Linked DNA regions of Homo sapiens: region 2 is linked to region 1. A link means that fine-mapping ties the variant in region 1 to the expression of a gene that starts in the linked region. Tissue or cell type: whole blood. Region 1 holds a variant in brackets; the other region holds the start of a gene. All regions are shown on one strand. Distances are between the middles of the regions.

Region 1 (8,179 bases):
CCTCACAGGTTACCTGTGCTTGTACATGGAGAAGGATGAGATGCTGGGAGCCACCCTCATCCTGGCATGGGTCCCCAACTCTCGCATCCAGAGGCAGGACGAGGAGGCCCTGCGCTACATCACACCCGAGAGCTCCCCCGTTCGCAAGGCACCCCGCCCTCGGGGCCGGCGCACCCGGAGCTCAGGAGCCTCCCACCAGCCCTCCCCGACGGAGCTGCGGCCTACCCTGACCCCCAAAGATGAGGACATCCTGGTGGTGGCCCAGAGTGTTCCAGACCGCATGCTCGCCAGCCCTGCGCCAGAGGATGAGGAGAAGCTGGCGCAGGGCTTGGGGGTGGATGGTGCCCAGCCAGCCTCGCAGCCTGCTTGCAGCCCCTCCGGGATCTTGTCGACGGTCAGTCCGCAGGATGTCACCGAGGAGGGGCGGGAGCCGCGGCCCGAGGCCGGGGAGGAGGATGGCTCTTTGGAACTGTCAGCCGAGGGCGTGAGCAGAGACAGCTCCTTTGACTCAGACTCAGACACCTTCTCCTCGCCCTTCTGCCTCTCGCCCATCAGCGCGGCGCTGGCCGAGAGCCGCGGCTCCGTGTTTCTGGAAAGTGACAGCAGGTGAGTTCCTGGTTCTGGGCGTGGGCTCTCGGGAGGCCCCCAAGGCCTGACCTGGGCAGGAAGCACTCACCTGCGTCACCTGTGATGCCAGGTGAGCGCTGGAGGCATCTGCCCGACCTGCCCGCGGCTGTGGCCGTGGCTGTGGCAGGAGCCCCTCCCTGAGGCAAGGGCTTCAGCAGGGAGTCCCCACTTTACACCCCACTGAGAGGACTGTGAAGGGTGCGTCGGGGTGTCCACATTCTTCTCTCTCCTTGAGACTCACTAGGACTAAACAGGCCCTACCAGGTCTGATGGGCCCATGACCAAGGCTAAGCCCCCGGGAGTCCTGGTCCCTTCTGTTCCCATCACCGGAGGGGCAGGAGATTTTCAGTCCCCAAGCGAGTGCCCAAGAGGCCCGGGTGGCATCATTAGGCTCACGCACAGGGCTGGCCCAAGCCCAGATGTGCTGGTCTCCAGCTCCCCGCTCTGCCCTGCAGCCCACTGGGCACGTGACCTGGCCCCCTGTGGTCCCCGGAGGCTTCAGCCTCCCTCTTTCTCATAGCTGTGGAGGATGGATGTAGTCCCGGGGCAGTGTTGACCATATTCACCCGACTTGGCAGCCGCTATGCACCCTGGGGAGTCCAGCCAGAGTATCTGGACTCCTTGCTGGCCACACTTGCAGGAGCTAGAGTTGGGCCCGTGCCCTGCGGTGGGTTCCCTGGGCCTTGGAACCCAAAGAGACCTTCCTGAGTGGGGAGGGTTGCATGGTGCCACGAGGGCCCTCATGGCCTTGGGGTGAGTGCCCGTGTGGTCGCATAAGCCCGGAGCCCCAGAGCCAGCACAGGGGGCCTGCATCCGACTTCCACAGCCCCTTCCTATGCCCCGGCTGTGGTCCTTACGCTCATTAGATTTCTGGGCAAATAATGGTGGTGACCACAGACAACAGTAAGAGCCGACATCAGTCAGCGAGCAGGTCATTAACTGTTGAGCTCGTGGTGTGAGCCGGGCGCATGCTGGACGTGGGTGGTCTGGGTCTCGCCTGGGCGCTGGACACCGTGGGCTATGGATGGTACGTGTGTGCTTTCCACAGCCCCACGCCCCGTGAGGTGGGCCCTCCTATTATCCCCTGCTATCGAAGGGGAAAGGGCGGCTCGGAGAAGGTCAGCAGCTTGCCAGGGGTCTCCCAGCCAGTGCCCGGGCCAAGCTGGGATGTGAACCCAGCTGGGTCTGCCCCAGGGCTGCAGCATAAAAGGTCACCCCAGGCCGATTAAGCCGGGGAGTGGTGGGGCATGAAGTAAGGACACAGGCTTTGCTGGCCTCAGCAGGGGTGACTGTGGGACGGGTTCTTCCCTGATTTTATCCCTCCAGTAAAGATGCAGTCCATTAGAGCCCCAGGGTGAACCGATAACATTCATCTCAGTTATTGGAGAGTGCAGATAAAAGGAAGCCGTGAGCCGTAACTGAGGACTCCAGGTGCCAGGAGGCTTGCTGAGCTGGGTGGCGTCAGGCGCCAGGGAACCCGAGGAGGTGTGGGGGAGGCGGGGCCCGAACTCTGGTCCTGGCCTGGGTCCCGCAGGCCGGACTCAGTCGGAGCTCCCCCTGGTGGTGCCAGGCCAACAGTGCAGCAGAACCTGCAGGCGTCCCCGTGTCCCTGCATCCCCAGGGCCCAGGCGAGGGGAAGGTCCCAGTTGTGTCTCAGAGAGGTGGTGGGGTTGGCCCACGGTCTTGGGGCTGAGGATTCTGTGGCAGAACCACAACCAGAAGCTGGCCGGTCAGCTCTCTGTCCCGCAGCCCCATCTCGTAGGGAGCTCAAGTTTAGGAGTTAGGGAGTTGAGTGCCGGTTGAGTCCTGGCATCACTGGTTAGTGTGAACCTGGGAAATTCTTTCTTTTCTTGGAGCCTCGGTTTCCCTGTTTGTAAGATGAGGCTGGTAATATCCACTTTCTGGGGGTATTGTGAGAATGCACCCCGGTTCGCTTTTCCCCGCCCTTCGCCTTGCTGGTTCTTCAACCTGGCTGCATGTGGGGGTTCCTGGGGGAGCCTTTAGACGCTGATGCCCAGGTCCCTCCAGGTTCTTCTAGAGCAGTGATTCTCACCCGGGGCCGAGTCTGTGCCCAGGGGGTGTATGGCAATGCCAGGAGACACTTTTTTTTTTTTTTTATCACAACTGAGGGTGGGGATGTATTGGCATCAGTGGGCAGCGGACAGGCGTGCTGTGCACTCACTCTGGAAGCCAGGCTGTCCCTCTGCCTGGGACCCACCGGGGGCCGCCCATCATTTTCAGGATGAAGCACCATCTCCTTCACTCGGGGTCCAAGGCCCATCACCATCTGGCCCTGCTGAGCGATGCTGCCTGCCTCCCCACCCCCCACTGTGCACACCTCCAAGTTCGTCGTCCTCTCTGCCTCTAGATCTTGTGGGGCTCTCTCTGCCTCATGCCTTTGGCTAGGGATCCCCTCTACCTAGGCTTCCTCCTTCCCCTCTCTCCTAACCGGCCAGCTTATATGTTTGAGACTCAGCTCCTGGGGCGAGGCACCTTCATGTCAGCTTTTGGGGGAGGCTTCTCTATTCCCCCGAACCCTGGGCTGAGGAGGGCCCTCCCCATGGCCCCCTTCTCTGCTCTGACACTCGAGTCCCCACTGAGACACCCTGTCCGCCTGTCCGTCCCCAGCTGCTGGGAGGCAGATGGTGGTGAAGGAGTAAATTTTGGGGTCCGACAGATCTGTTTCCAGTCCTGGCATCATCCTGAGTTATGTGTGATCTTGTGGCCATTACCTCCCACATCCAAAACGCAGATGCCTCACGGGTGTGAAGTGCGGCCAAGAACCCCCTTGTAGGGCAGAGTCGGCGTGAGGGTTGAGCACCAGCCTGGGGTATGGGGTCAGCGAGCCTGGCCTGGGACTCGTCCCCACCCGGAGACCGTGCTGGGGGGTGCTTACCACAGCCCGGCCCTGCTCCTGATGAAGGCTCAGAAAATGCCTCTTGGCCACATGGCCGCGGGCTCGGTGTGGCTCGCACCTCAGGCCTGTGTCAGCCCGGTCCAGGGGAGGCTCGCTGAACGTGGCGAGTTGCAGCTTTGTGCTGGGACGAGGTGGATGTGGATGGGACTCTCCCCACCCCGCCAGAAGCGTGTGCTTCAGTGCAAGGCTGGAGTGAAA[AC/C]AGCCTGTCTCCAAGACAGACTGCTGAGAGCTTTCTTTTTATTTTTAAAAAGTAGATATGGAGGCCGGGCACTGTGACTCACGCCTGTAATCCCAGCACTTTGGGAGGCCAAGGTGGGTGGATTGCTTGAGCCTAGGAGTTCAAGACCAGCCTGGGGAAAATGGCAAAACCTCATCTCTATAAAAAATACATAAAAATTAGCTGGGCATAGTGGTGCATGCCTATGGTCCCAGCTACTCAGGAGGCTGAGGCAGGAGGATGGCTTAAGCCTGGGAGGTGAAGGCTGCAGTGAGCTGTGATCATGCCACTGCACTCCAGCCTGGGTGACAGAGAGATACTCTGTCTGGAAAAAAAAAAAGAAAGAAAGAAAAAGAAAAGCAGACATGGATTCTGAAAGGGGCTGGGCGAGCCCTGGAATCTGCATTTCCCTGGTCTTTCCTTGCTCCTGTGCGCTTCTGGCCCCCACCACATGGTAGACCCAGGAAGCAGAGGTGGTGCTCCTTGCCCCATCCCCATCCCCCGGGGCCTTCGTATGATGGGACTGGAGATCCTTGGCTAAGGTGGTTAATTGTCCTAGACGCTGTAGAGCAGGCGTCCCCAGCCCGGCTGCCCATGAGAATGCCCTGGGCAGCTTTAAAAATCCTGATGCCCAGGCTGCACCCAGACCAATTAAACTAGGATCGCTGGGGTGGCGCCCAGGCATGGGAATGTTTTGAACTTCCTGGGGGTTTCTGAAGTGCACGTAGCGTTGAGAACCCCTGCTGTGAAGGGGCTGAGAGAGAGAGAGAGAGAGAGAAAGAAAGAGAGAAAGAGAGCGAGAGAGCGAGAGAGAGCGAGAGCGCTCCTGGTGCTCTGGGGTGGGGAGGGGTGTCAGGGCCGAGGACCCCAGATGACTGGCCATCCCGCCAGGCAGGGGTGTTGGTGAGGACTCGGGTGCACCCATCGCCACTCTGAGCGGTGGGGCGTCTATTAATAATTAACCCGGAGTTGAGTCCCCCCGGAGGGCAGAGCAGGTAGGCTGGCTCGAGGGTCCCCTCTAGTGGTGGATCTGAAGAACTGCATGTGCAGGCTGCGTGTCTGGCTGAGATTGGCCAGGAGGGACAACTCCCCCACCCCACCCCGGGGGCCTAGGGTCCCCCAGGTATATGGTTATTTGGCAAGTAGTTCACAGAAGAGCTTAGGGGTTAGAAATGGCAGTATCCCCCGGGCTGCCCACATTCGTGTGCTACCTGTAGAGTATGGCCAGGTGGGGTCTGCATGCTGGAAGGTGAGCCCACCTACTAAACCCAGAGGTCTCCTTTGGAAGCCCCAGGCCCCAGGCCCCAGTCCAGCGACGGCCTGGAAATCCTTGACCAAGTGAGTATTCGAGGCTGACTTGGGGGATGGGGTGATACGGAGAGCTGCTGTCGCCAATGCGTCGTCCTGCCTCCCCGCCCTGAGACCCCAAGACCCTGAGCTTCCCCGAGCCGGGGGTGAGCCCTGGGCTATCTTGGTCCTGTGCCCTCCTCAGTGTCAGAAAGCAAGGCTCTCGGGTGTGCTGGGGAGGGTGACCACCAAGCGCGACTGGTCATCCTGCCCTTGGTTTCTGTGCTGGAAGCTACCGTCCAGCCTAAAAGGCCAGTTGGGCGAGGGTGTGGAATAACGGGGCGCCATGGGGCTGGTACCGTGTCCACTGACCCTGCCCCGGGGATGTGCATTGGTGACCTGGATAAAGAACTGAAACAAGCCTGGGCAACATAGCGAGACCCCGTCTCTACCAAAAAGAAAAAAAAATTAGCTGGGTGTGGTGGTGCACACCTTTAATCCAAGCTGCTACTCCGGAGGCTGAGGCAGGAGGACTGCTTGAGCCTGGGAGGTGGAGGCTGCAGTGAGCCATGATCGCACCAGTGCACTCAAGCCTGGGTGACAGAGTGAGACCTTGTCAAAAACAAAAACAACAACAACAAAAACAAGAACAACAAAAACACCAGATTCTGCTCCCTAAGTGAAAATGTCTCCTCTGGACCTCATCCTAAGAAAGAATCCAAATTACAGATAGAAAGGCCAAAGTGGCCGGCACGTGGCTTAAGCCTGTAATTCCAGCGCTTTGGGAGGCTAAGGTGGGCAGATCACTTGAGGTTGGCAGTTGGAGGCCAGCGTGGTCAACACCGTAAAACCCCATCTCAACTAAAAATACAAAAATTAGTTCAGCATGGTGGCACATGCCTGTAATCCCAGCTACTTGGGAAGCTCAGGCACGAGAATCGCTTGAACTTGGGAGGCAGAGGTTGCAGTGAGCCGAGATGGTGCCCCTGCACTCCAGCCTGGGTGACAGAGCTAGACCTTGTCTCAAAAGAAAATAAAAGTAGAAAGACAAACGCTTCTGCATGAAGATGTTCATCGTGGTATTCCTTACAGTGGGGAAAAAGGAGCAGAACATAAGAATCCAACGGCAGAGGAGGTGGACCGACTAAGGTCCCTCTAAGGTCCCTCTGTTGGATCAGGGAGTTTTCAAACCTGGGCTCACGAACCCCTGAGATCTTACCCCACTTTTTTTTATATGAGGAGGAGGCACCATCTGACTTCCCAGAAGGTCTGTGACCTGTAAAACGTTCAGAAGCTCGGTGCTGCCAGATAGGAGAAGATGTGGTATTGACAAGGACTGTCAAATGGTCCATGCAGTGTTGCAGTGTGGAAATTTAGAGTGAATCAGACGCAAAGCAGGAAACGGGTTATGATTCTGCCCGTTGCAGTTAAACTCTGTGAAGAGGCCTGAGGTGCAGATGAGGCTCTCAGGGCAGGGCTGCCCAGCAGAGCTTCTGCCAGGGCAGACAGAACCCAGGTCTGCGCCGTCCCGCACTGCGGCCACTGGCTTCATGCAGCTCTTGAACCCTTGAAATGGCGCAAGTGCAACTGAATTTTTAATTTTACATAATACGGATTAATAAAATTGTTTTTAATTTTAAAATGTTTTTAAGTTTCGTTTTTAGAGACAGAGTCTCACCGTATTGCTCAGGCCGGCATACGGTGGCGGCAGCACAATCACAGCTCACTGCAGCCTCCACCTCCCGGGCTCGAGCGATCCTCCCACCTCAGCCTCTCAAGTAGCTGGGATTGCAGACATGCACCACCATGCCCCGTTCATTTATTTTATTTTTTAGAGACAGACTCTTGCTCTGTTGCCTAGGCTGGTCTCAAACTCCTAGGCTCAAGTGACCCTCCTGCCTGGACCTCCCAAAGTGCTGGGATTACAGGCATGAGCCGCGTGCCCGGCCCTGATGAATATAAATGTGGATAGCGCCTGTGGTCAGTGGCCACGGCAGTGGATGGCAGAGGTTGAGAGGAAGGTGTGCCCACGTGTTAGCCTAGTGTGATTATGAGCACTTTTTTTTTTTTTTTACTTTTCTGTTTTCAAAAATGTTATTCTGTGATTATATTAAGCTTAGAATGAAAACCAATGTATAAAAATAGACAGAAGGGGAGAACCTGCACATTTGGGGACGCTAAGCATCTCCCACTGCGCTGCACGCTGCTAACTAGTGAAGAGGCCTCCAGGGCGAGCTGGTCACTGAGGTCCTTCCAGTGACACCAGTGCCGCCGGCCTGCCACCTTGGGTCCCGTGCCGCCAGCGGGGCCTCCCCCTGGGGAAGTGAGTGTTTCGTTCTCTCTCTCCCTGGGTCCTCTTGTCATTCCCGGCATGCGTTCCCGGGGTGGCCAGCCTAGGCAAGATGGTGTTTGGGTGTTGGGATGGGCTGGGTGGCCTGGCCTCAGAGTTTGGCCACTTGTTACTGTGGTTTCTGTCATGCAGTTCCTGCCAGGTCAGACTCAGTCCAAGCGGGTTGGCGCGGCCACAGGTGGGCAAGGGCCAGGAGCAATGTGCTGCCCACCTGGGGGTGCTGCCGGGACCCCCTGCCCTCCCACTTTCCTCTTGCCCTTTCCTGCACACACACTGGGCACTTCACCCCAAGCATAGCCGCTTCCCACCTTGCTGCCCGCAGCTGGAATGTTCTCCTCTCTCCTGCTGAATCCCCAGCCCACCTGCAGGTGGAAGAGACTTTCTTCTCCGTGACCCCTGCTGGGACCTGAGCTTTCTCTCTGGAGAGCTCCTATCAAGGCCGCGTGGTGTTCCCTACGTGCGCCACCGTTCCCGGGTGCTTCCTCACAGGGTCCTCCCAGTGCCTGGGCCAGCGCCGTCAGCAGAGCGTCCTGCAGTGCACGCGGTCCTGTGCCTGTGCCCCACTGTGTGTGGCCACCACGCCCTAGAAATGCAGCAGATGTGGCCAAGCAACTGGACTTTGGTCTTTCTTTATCTTCAATGAATGTGAAGTTTGGTGGTCACAGCGGGAGGCCTCCATGCCTGACAGCACAGGTCTGGACGGAATGTTCCTGGGAGGATGGAAGGTGGACCCTAGAAACGTAGCGACCCTCCCAGCAGGACAGGCCCGAAAAACTCTCTG
Region 2 (8,147 bases), 29 kb before region 1:
TGTAATCCCAGCTACTTAGAAGGCTGGGGCAGGAGAATTGCTTAAACTCGGAAGGCAGAGGTTGCAGTGAGCTGAGATCGTGCCACTGAACTTCAGCCTGGAGACAGAGTGAGACTCTGTCTCAAAAAAAAAAAAAATCATGTTTCATGCTTCAGTTTATCTGTTCTTTCTTTTTTTATTTTTTTTTGTGACAGGGGCTCACTCTGCTGCCCAGGCTGGAGTGCGGTGGCGTGATCTCGGCTCACTGCAACTTCCACCTCCTGGGTTCAAGCGATTCTCCTGCTTCAGCCTCCCAAGTAGCTGGGACTACAGGTGTGTACCACCATGCCCAGTTAATTTTTCCATTTTTAGTAGGGATGGGGTTTCACCATGTTGGCCAGGCTGGTCTTGAATTCCTGGCCTCAAGAGATCCATCCGCCTCAGCCTCCCAAAGTGCCGGGACCACAGGCGTGAGCCACCATGCCTGGCCCTCTCTGCTTTTCATAATCATTTTTGCATCCTTTGTTACAGGAAATGAGTTCCGAAAAACTCAGGGCAACCCAAAGTTGGACATCCTTTGCATCCCTGACTAATCACTGACACTGTAGAATGGGGTAGGAAGAAAATGAGTCTCTCTTCAACTGAATTGAGTTTGTTCTGGTGCAAGATAATGTCATCATACAATATACTTGACCAAGTCCTAATTCTCTTTATTTATTTATTTTTAATTTAATTTTATTTATCTATTTTTTGAGATGGAGTCTCGCTCTGTCGCCAGGCTGAGTGCAGTGGCACAATCTCGGCTCACTGCAACCTCCATCTCCCAGGTTCAAGCCATTCTCCTGCCTCAGCCTCCCGAGTAGCTGGGACTACAGGCGTGAACCACCATGCCTGGCAAATTTTTGTATTTTTAGTAGAGACAGGGTTTCACCATGTTGGCCAGGATAGTCTCGATCTTTTGACCTCGTGATCTGCCTGCCTCGGCCTCCCAAAGTGCTGGAATTACAGGCGTGAGTCACCGTGCCCGGCCTATTTATTTATTTTTGAGATAGAGTTTCACTGGTCACCCAGGCTGGAGTGCAATGGTGTGATCTTGGCTCACTGCAACCTCTGTCTCCCGAGTTCAAGCCACTGTCCTGCCTCAGCCTCCCGAGTAGCTGGGACTACATGTGCGCACCACCACGCCCGGCTAATTTTTATATTTTTAGTAGAGATGGGGTTTTACCATGTTGGCCAGGCTTGTCTCAAACTCCTAACCTCATGTGATCCACCTGCCTTGGCCTCCCAAAGTGTTGGGATTACAGGCGTGAGCCACAGTGCCCGTACTCTGATTCTCTTTAATTCCTAGTAAATATAAGCCCGGAATAACTGCCCATAGGGAATTTTACCATGTGGCTTTCATTATTCCCTTCCTTCTCTCCCTCAGAAGCCGATCCATCTTCCGGATGGGACCTGGTTTTAGAGAAACAATTGAACAGTTTCAAGCAACAGCTTTCTTTTTCTTGGTCCTTATCCCCTCCTGAATTCTGCACATCTGTTTATTTACTTGTTACTTCTCTGCCACCCCCAGGCTGTTGTCACGTCTTTGTCCTGTTTGTCAGGAACCATAGCACTATATCATGCCTGTCAGGTGGCGGAGATGCCACAAAAGCAAAGCTCCATGAATGAATGAAAAATATAATTATTAAAACATCGAAGGAACAGCAGGATTAGATCACCCCAGAAAAGTCACCTCAAATATAACTTGTGTCTGGGACAAAACTGGGGAAAAGAAATACAACGTAGAGAAAGTAGCGCGATCAGAGTAAGTGTTCTGGGGACTCTGAGTTTCTCCACGATTTACGTAGCACAGGAATATATATATATATATATATATATGTATATCTTTTTTAAAAAATTAAAGATTCAAGCTATTTTTATCTGTCAAAGGAATATAGATATGTTCAAAGAGACAGACAGTGACAGTTCCCTGTGATCTTCCCTTTCCTTCCCAAGATAATCATTGATAACATTTAGGACCACATTCTTTCAACATTTTTCTATGTTTTAAACACACACACACACCCTGAATTAGAGATCATAGTATACCTACCCTTTTACATTTATGCCTATCGTTTTATTAATAATACCTTTAGTCTTTCCATGTCAATACATACAGACCCACCTTTAAAAAAATGAAACAATACCGATGTGTCTAAGGTAAAAAGGCCAAACTCTTTCCAATCGTTTCTATCCTTTTAAACAGAGCCTAAGCGAGCAGAGGCCCGGTGGCAGGGATCTTCACTCAGCCGCCCTCCCTGTGCGCGCTCAGTGCTTCCACCCAGGCCCCAGGACGGTGACCGCGGACTATCGCGGGCCGCCTAACCGCAGGGACCCCTCCCATCGCGGGTCACCCCCAAGCCTGCGAGAGGGGATCTGTCCTTGCAGGAGGGAGGCGCGGGGCCGGGCTGGTCTCCGGCCACAGCGAGTGGCCCCGGAGCAAGGTCAGGGGCGGTATCCAACAGCCCCGCGCCCTGCAGAGCCCTCTACTCTTAGGAGGACTGCGCGCAGGGACCGCCACGCAGAGTGGTTGCCATGGTGACTGCAGAGTGAGCGGTCCCGGGTTTTAGAGGGAGTCGCGCGCTTGGAGTAGGGGAAAGAGGGAGGCCGAGAGAGGACAAAGGGACAGGAGGGGAGAAGTGAGAAGGGTTGGCGGGGGGGTGAGGGGCTGAACGCAGTGGACGGGAAAGGCCAGCAAAATGGCGAGAGAAGGGACACAGGCGAGAGGAAGGGGGAGTGGAGGCGAAGGGGCGAGGCAGGAGCCGACGCGGGGGCCACCTGGAGCGGTGAACGGAGAGCGCGGCCTGGCGACTCCAAGACCCGCTGCCCCTCGGCCCGGCTTACCGGCCCGCCGCGCCGCCCGGTTCCGCCATTTCCCGTTGCTAGGCGACGCTGTCAACATCCGGCCGGGCCGGGACCACGCGCGCTGCGAGGGCGGGGGCCGCCGGGGGCGGCGCGGCCTTTGTGCCATCTCCACGCACGCAGAGGCGCGCGCCGTCTCGACGTGTCGTCCCTTAGACTGTAATGATTAGAGCACGACCATGCTTTTCCTTTATCGCTCTCTGCGCCCGGGTCCCGCCTCGGCTGCGCTCAATTTCTGTAAAGCGACAGCGGCGTCAGCGTGTGCCCAGCGGGCGGCTCGAGGTCCCGAAGGGACCTGCCGGGCACCTGGGGACCCCGGACTGCTAAGCGCCCGGGAATGGCAGGCGGGCTGGGGGCACCGGGGGCCGGGGACCCCGCGCATGGCGAGCGCTTTTCCATCTCCTGCCCTAGGGGGCTCCGGTGCCCTTCTCCAGGGGTCCTACGGAGACTCCTTGCATGGACGCCCGGGGGGTCTTCCGGAGCGTATCTTCCCTTCCTAGTCCGAAATAGGAGAAATCTCCCTGCAGAGGGCGGCAGCGGAGGGCCAGCGCGCACGCGGAGCGTCCGAGGAGCCCTGCCTTTCCTTTGGGGACGCCAGGCTCGGGACGGGGCACAGTCCCCGAGGCCGGGACGCGGCGAGGCCTGAGGGAGGGCCAGCAGGGAACTAGAGGCTTGGGCCCAGGGCTGGGCCAGAAGGTGGGCGGGGAGACCGGCGGGGGCAGGCAGGGGCCGGGCCGGGGGCGGGCCCGGGGGCGGGCCGGGGGCCGGGCCTCCCCGCGCGTCCCCGCCCCGCCGCGCCTCACTGGCGGCGGCAGCGGCGGAGGCGACGGTGGCGGCTCTCGGAGCCGGCGCGAATCCGGCCCCCGCAGCGGGACCCGGGTGGGTATCGGGGCCCGGACGGGGCCGCGGGGGCGGGGTCCGAGGGGTCCACCGCGCAGCGAGCAGCGCCCCCTCGGCGGAGCTGGGGCGGGGGCGCGCGGGGCGCGTGGGGCGCGTGGGCCTGCAGCCGCGGGACCGGGGAGGGGCCGGGGTCCGGCCGCCGTCCTCGGGGTGCGGGGCGCCAGCAGGAGCGGGAGCGTTGTGGGAGGACCTGGATCACGGAGGGGCACCTGGGGACTTTTCCCCGCGGCGAGTGAGGGCGCCCGGGCCCGGAATGGGCCTAATTCGGGGAGACTGGTCCCCGCCTGTCTGGAGCGGTGGACCGGGGAACTTGCGGTCTTTGTCTGGCTGAATCGGCGGAGCAGACGGATGAGAACTTGTGGGGTGCCGGCGCGCGCCCACACAGCCTCCAAAGTGTGCGTCCCCCCAGCAGCGCGCGCTCAGCTTTCCCGGCCTGTCGGGCTTGGTGGTCTGGGCTGTTTAAGATCCGCGTGTCGGGATACTCACTTCCGTTCCGCCTGGGCTCCCTTGTTCTTTCCTTTGGGAAAAAAAAAAAAAGAAAAAGAAAGAAAGAACGAAAGGAAGGAAAGAAAAAAAGGAAAGGCAACTGAAGATTGCTAAACATAACCTAGGGGATCCTGCCGGAAGCCGCTGAATCCTGAAATCCTGTGATTCCCACACTCGGAAGCTGGTGTCGTATATTGGCCACAAAGTAGTTCAGATTTGATTCAGAAATAGGAAATGAATAGAAAAGACATAACAAAAGTTAGTCTCGCCTTATGGTAAAGTTTGTTTTACTGTCTGGGTCAAGTTCAAATGAGAAGCTGGGCTGATTGGCCAGCCTCTGCGACTTGATCCTGAAGATCTGCTTTCTTTTCTACCAGAAGGCTCCTAATTCTTTTATCTGGAATAAAAAGGGAACTCCGTCTTAAAGATGCTCACGTGAGGCGGCATATTGCCAGAGGGTGGGCGCAAAGACTGGGGGCTGGAGATTCCATTCCAAATCTGTTACTGATTGATCAGAACACTTTTTCAAATCCATGCCTCAGTTTTAGAAAATCCTCATTAGAAACGCTAACAGTAAAATTGGTGAATACTAAACACTTTTAAGAACCATGAAAGCTTTTGTAAATAAAGAATAAAGTGAGGAGTAACTTTTGGTATTAACTACAAAGTTCATTAATGGATGTTGTTTGCATCCTGAGCGTGGTTATTGTGCGCATATTTTTTTGTAAGTGGCATGTTTATGGTGAGACTATGGCTAACGAAAGTTTTTATGGCGAAAGTTTTTATGGCTGGGCGCCGTGGCTCACGGCTGTAATCCCAGCACTTTGGGAGGACGAGGCGAGCGGATCACCTGAGGTCAGGAGTTCGAGACCAGCCTGGCCAATATGGTGAAACCCCCCATATCTACTAAAAATACAAAAATTAGCCCGGTGTGGTGGCGTGAGCCTGTAATCCCAGTACTCAGGAGGCTGAGACAGGGGAATCGCTTGAGCTCGGGAGGCGAAGGTTGCAGTGAGCCAAGATGTGCAACTGCACCCCAGCCCGGGTGATAGAGCAACATTCTATGTCTCAAAAAAAAAAAAAAAAAGGAAAAAAAAAGTTTTTATCTGTGGAATTATTTAATCCTCTAGCAATTTTGGTGATTGCGTTAGTAGTTCCTAATTATCATGCATGAATTCACTTAACCCACAAAACAAGCTCATGAAGTCAGGACTGCAGTTATGCCCATTTACAGATGGGAACACTGACGCTTAGAGAAGTAACTTCCCAAGCTCATGCAGTTAGGAGTGACAGAATTAGGCCTTAGGCCCAGGACGTCCCAGCTCCAGAAAACCGTTGTACAACTTTGCCCTCTGTCTTACAGAGGGTGCCCACCATTCATATACAAACATTCTTCCAAGTGGTTCATAACAGTGCAAGGAGGTGGGACTAATCCCATGTCACCACTAGCTGCTAATCTCAGTTCACTTCAGTATGGAAAGCATCCCCCAGGCTTCAGGATAAAGCCATTGAGTTTGCAGAACCTACCTACAATTGCACTGGTCTCTGTCCACAGTTTTGGGTAATAAGGTGCAGTGGTTAAGAACATGGCGTAGAAAGATGGACTGCTGGCTTCAAATACAAATCCTGGACTGGGCATAGTAGCTCACACCTATAATCCTGTATTTTGGGAGAATCACTTGAGCCCAGAAGTTCAAGACCACCTTAGGCAACCTAGAGAGACCCTATCGCTACAAAAAATGAACAAATTAGCTGGACATGCTGGTGGGCACCTATGGTCCCAGCTATTTGGGTGGCTGAGGTGGGAGGATAGCTTGAGCCCGGGAGGTCAGGGCTGCAGTGAGCCATGACCAGCCTCTGCATTCTAGCCTGGGTGACAGAGTGAGACTCTGCTTAAAAAAAAAACCTAAAAAACCCAAACAACAACAACAACAAAACAACAACAAAAACCCCAACTCCTCTGGCACTTAGTTAATTCTCCAGTGCCTTAATTTCCCCATCTATACTACCTACTTCAGAGACTTTGTGCAAGGATTATGAAAAGCATTGAATTCCTGACACATCCTGAGTTACCATTTAGGATGTGGTAAGTAATGTCAAATGGTAACATTTTAACACTGTTATTAATGACCGTTATTTGGATTTTCCACATTTAACTAGATTGACACAAAACATTTTGTTTTTGTGCTTTGACTCCTCACTCCCCTTTGTGTGGTCCATGAGGTGGAAAGTGATTCCAGGCAGATGTAGGATTTACTATTTGTGCGTATGTGTACCCTTATCTTTACAACTTGACCGGGGGCTGGGTCCCTGCAGGATGCTATGGGGAGCAGAGCTGATCAGGTTGCCTGGCAACACCACCTCCTGTGAAAATTTTAGCTCCCCTTCTTCCCTGGCTGAGGGACCCTGATTTTTGTCACAGGCCTAAATTCTCTTGTAAGATTAGCTACTTTGTTTCATCCAGCATTAAGCACCGGGGGCGGGTGGCTCTGGGATGTGAAGGTGACAGCGCAGAGGATGATTTTATGATCGAATTGTACACCATTTGTATTGCATTTGCATTATATTGCTGTTAATGAGGCCAGTGCACAGGAGAGAGCACACATTTGCACCCTTCCCAAAAATATGGGGCAATGATGTTGGAGGCCTTTTTCCGTTCACCTCAGCGGCAGTGTTTTTTATCCTGTTGGCTTTGTTGGTGTTTTTATCCTATCTGTCCTTTGAGCACCTGATGTTGCATCTCTAATAAATCTGCTTTTATGAGCTGTCTGGTGGCATCTGATTTGAAATACGTTCTTTACTCTGTCTTCGGAACTTACATAACCATCCTCAAAGGATGAGAGAAATCGGGCCACTGTAAGACTAAGTTCGATTTCTGCCCGTGGTGGCTTCTGACACATGAATAACAGAAAGAAAAGAGAAATAATCCAAATCCACTGTCCAGTCGGAATGGCCTGCCCTTCTGTTGCTGAGCCTTGGGCGGTGAGTCTGTGCAGGCGTTGGAAGGTGATACATGTGTCTGCTTGCCTGTATGGGCTGCAGACGCTGAGATGTGGCAGTATTTTCTCCGTGGTCTTTCTGGATTGGTCACTATGAAGCCAACGTACTGCGGGTGCCAAGCCCGCATCCATGCTGGCTTGCACACTTCAGTCGTGTACTGCTTTTTGCATGTTGAGTGAGCCTGAATTCAATGCTCCAATATAGTTCATCATTACTCTAGCCTTCTGGAAGTGGGGGAAAGGGTGAACTTTACAGATGTCATTTGACAGCCTTTTGCCTTTTCTGTAACTAAAATGCTTTCCAAAGCAAGATCAGTTGTGTTGCTTTTGGGTGTTGTTAATATGTCCCCCCAGTTTCAGTTTTGTTTTGCGGTGCATTCACTGCTCCTTCACTGACAGATGCTGAGAAGCTTTAGGCCTCCATGTTTACAGGCACAGCATAGAAGTAGGAGGTACCTGAGCCAGACTCAGGGCAGTTTTTGATTTCCTGGCTGGGTCTGCATCTTCCCTTACCCTTTGTGTTTAGTCTTTCCTTAGTCCCAGATCCAGGCTCACCTCTGAGTTGAGTTTCTTCTCCCAGGCCTGACCTCCTTGGCTCTTTGCGGGGGAAATGGGATTTTACAATCTACTATCAAGGGTGCACAAATGGCAGATGGTCTCTCCTTGGAGGCAGAGGCTTTGGGGTTTTCCAGGGAGTGGGTGCTAATCAGGGTGACCGCTGGACAGTTGCAAAAGGAGAGTCACAGCCACACAGGCCACCAGGTTTTCCCTCACCACCGTTTTGGTGATGGTCCTGCCCCGTTATAGCCTCTCAGGGGTCCTCTTTCCCTATGGTCCAAGATCCCAGCACTGCAGTGAATGCCCTAAGCCCTAGTTTCTTCA

Evidence for each region. PIP is the estimated chance that this variant, and not a neighbour inherited with it, causes the effect.
Region 2: it holds the start of TBC1D16, and the variant in region 1 is fine-mapped to the expression of TBC1D16 in whole blood (Lepik 2017, PIP 0.95).

The regions. Positions count from the first base shown.
Region 1 is chr17:80,002,587-80,010,765 of GRCh38, reverse strand. It overlaps TBC1D16 (TBC1 domain family member 16), which reads left to right. Exons shown (of 12, transcript NM_019020.4): 3 at 9-606. Among named protein-coding and RNA genes, the nearest start is that of TBC1D16, 29 kb to the left of the region's middle. RefSeq lists an enhancer at 7,887-8,179. The variant AC/C (reference allele first, on the strand shown) is at 3,743.
Region 2 is chr17:80,031,407-80,039,553 of GRCh38, reverse strand. It overlaps TBC1D16 (TBC1 domain family member 16), which reads left to right and starts at 3,682. Exons shown (of 12, transcript NM_019020.4): 1 at 3,682-3,759. It overlaps CCDC40 (coiled-coil domain 40 molecular ruler complex subunit), which reads right to left and starts at 2,912. Exons shown (of 20, transcript NM_017950.4): 1 at 2,863-2,912; 2 at 1,368-1,431. The coding sequence starts at 2,891. RefSeq lists enhancers at 2,110-2,404, 3,304-3,423 and a silencer at 3,614-3,683.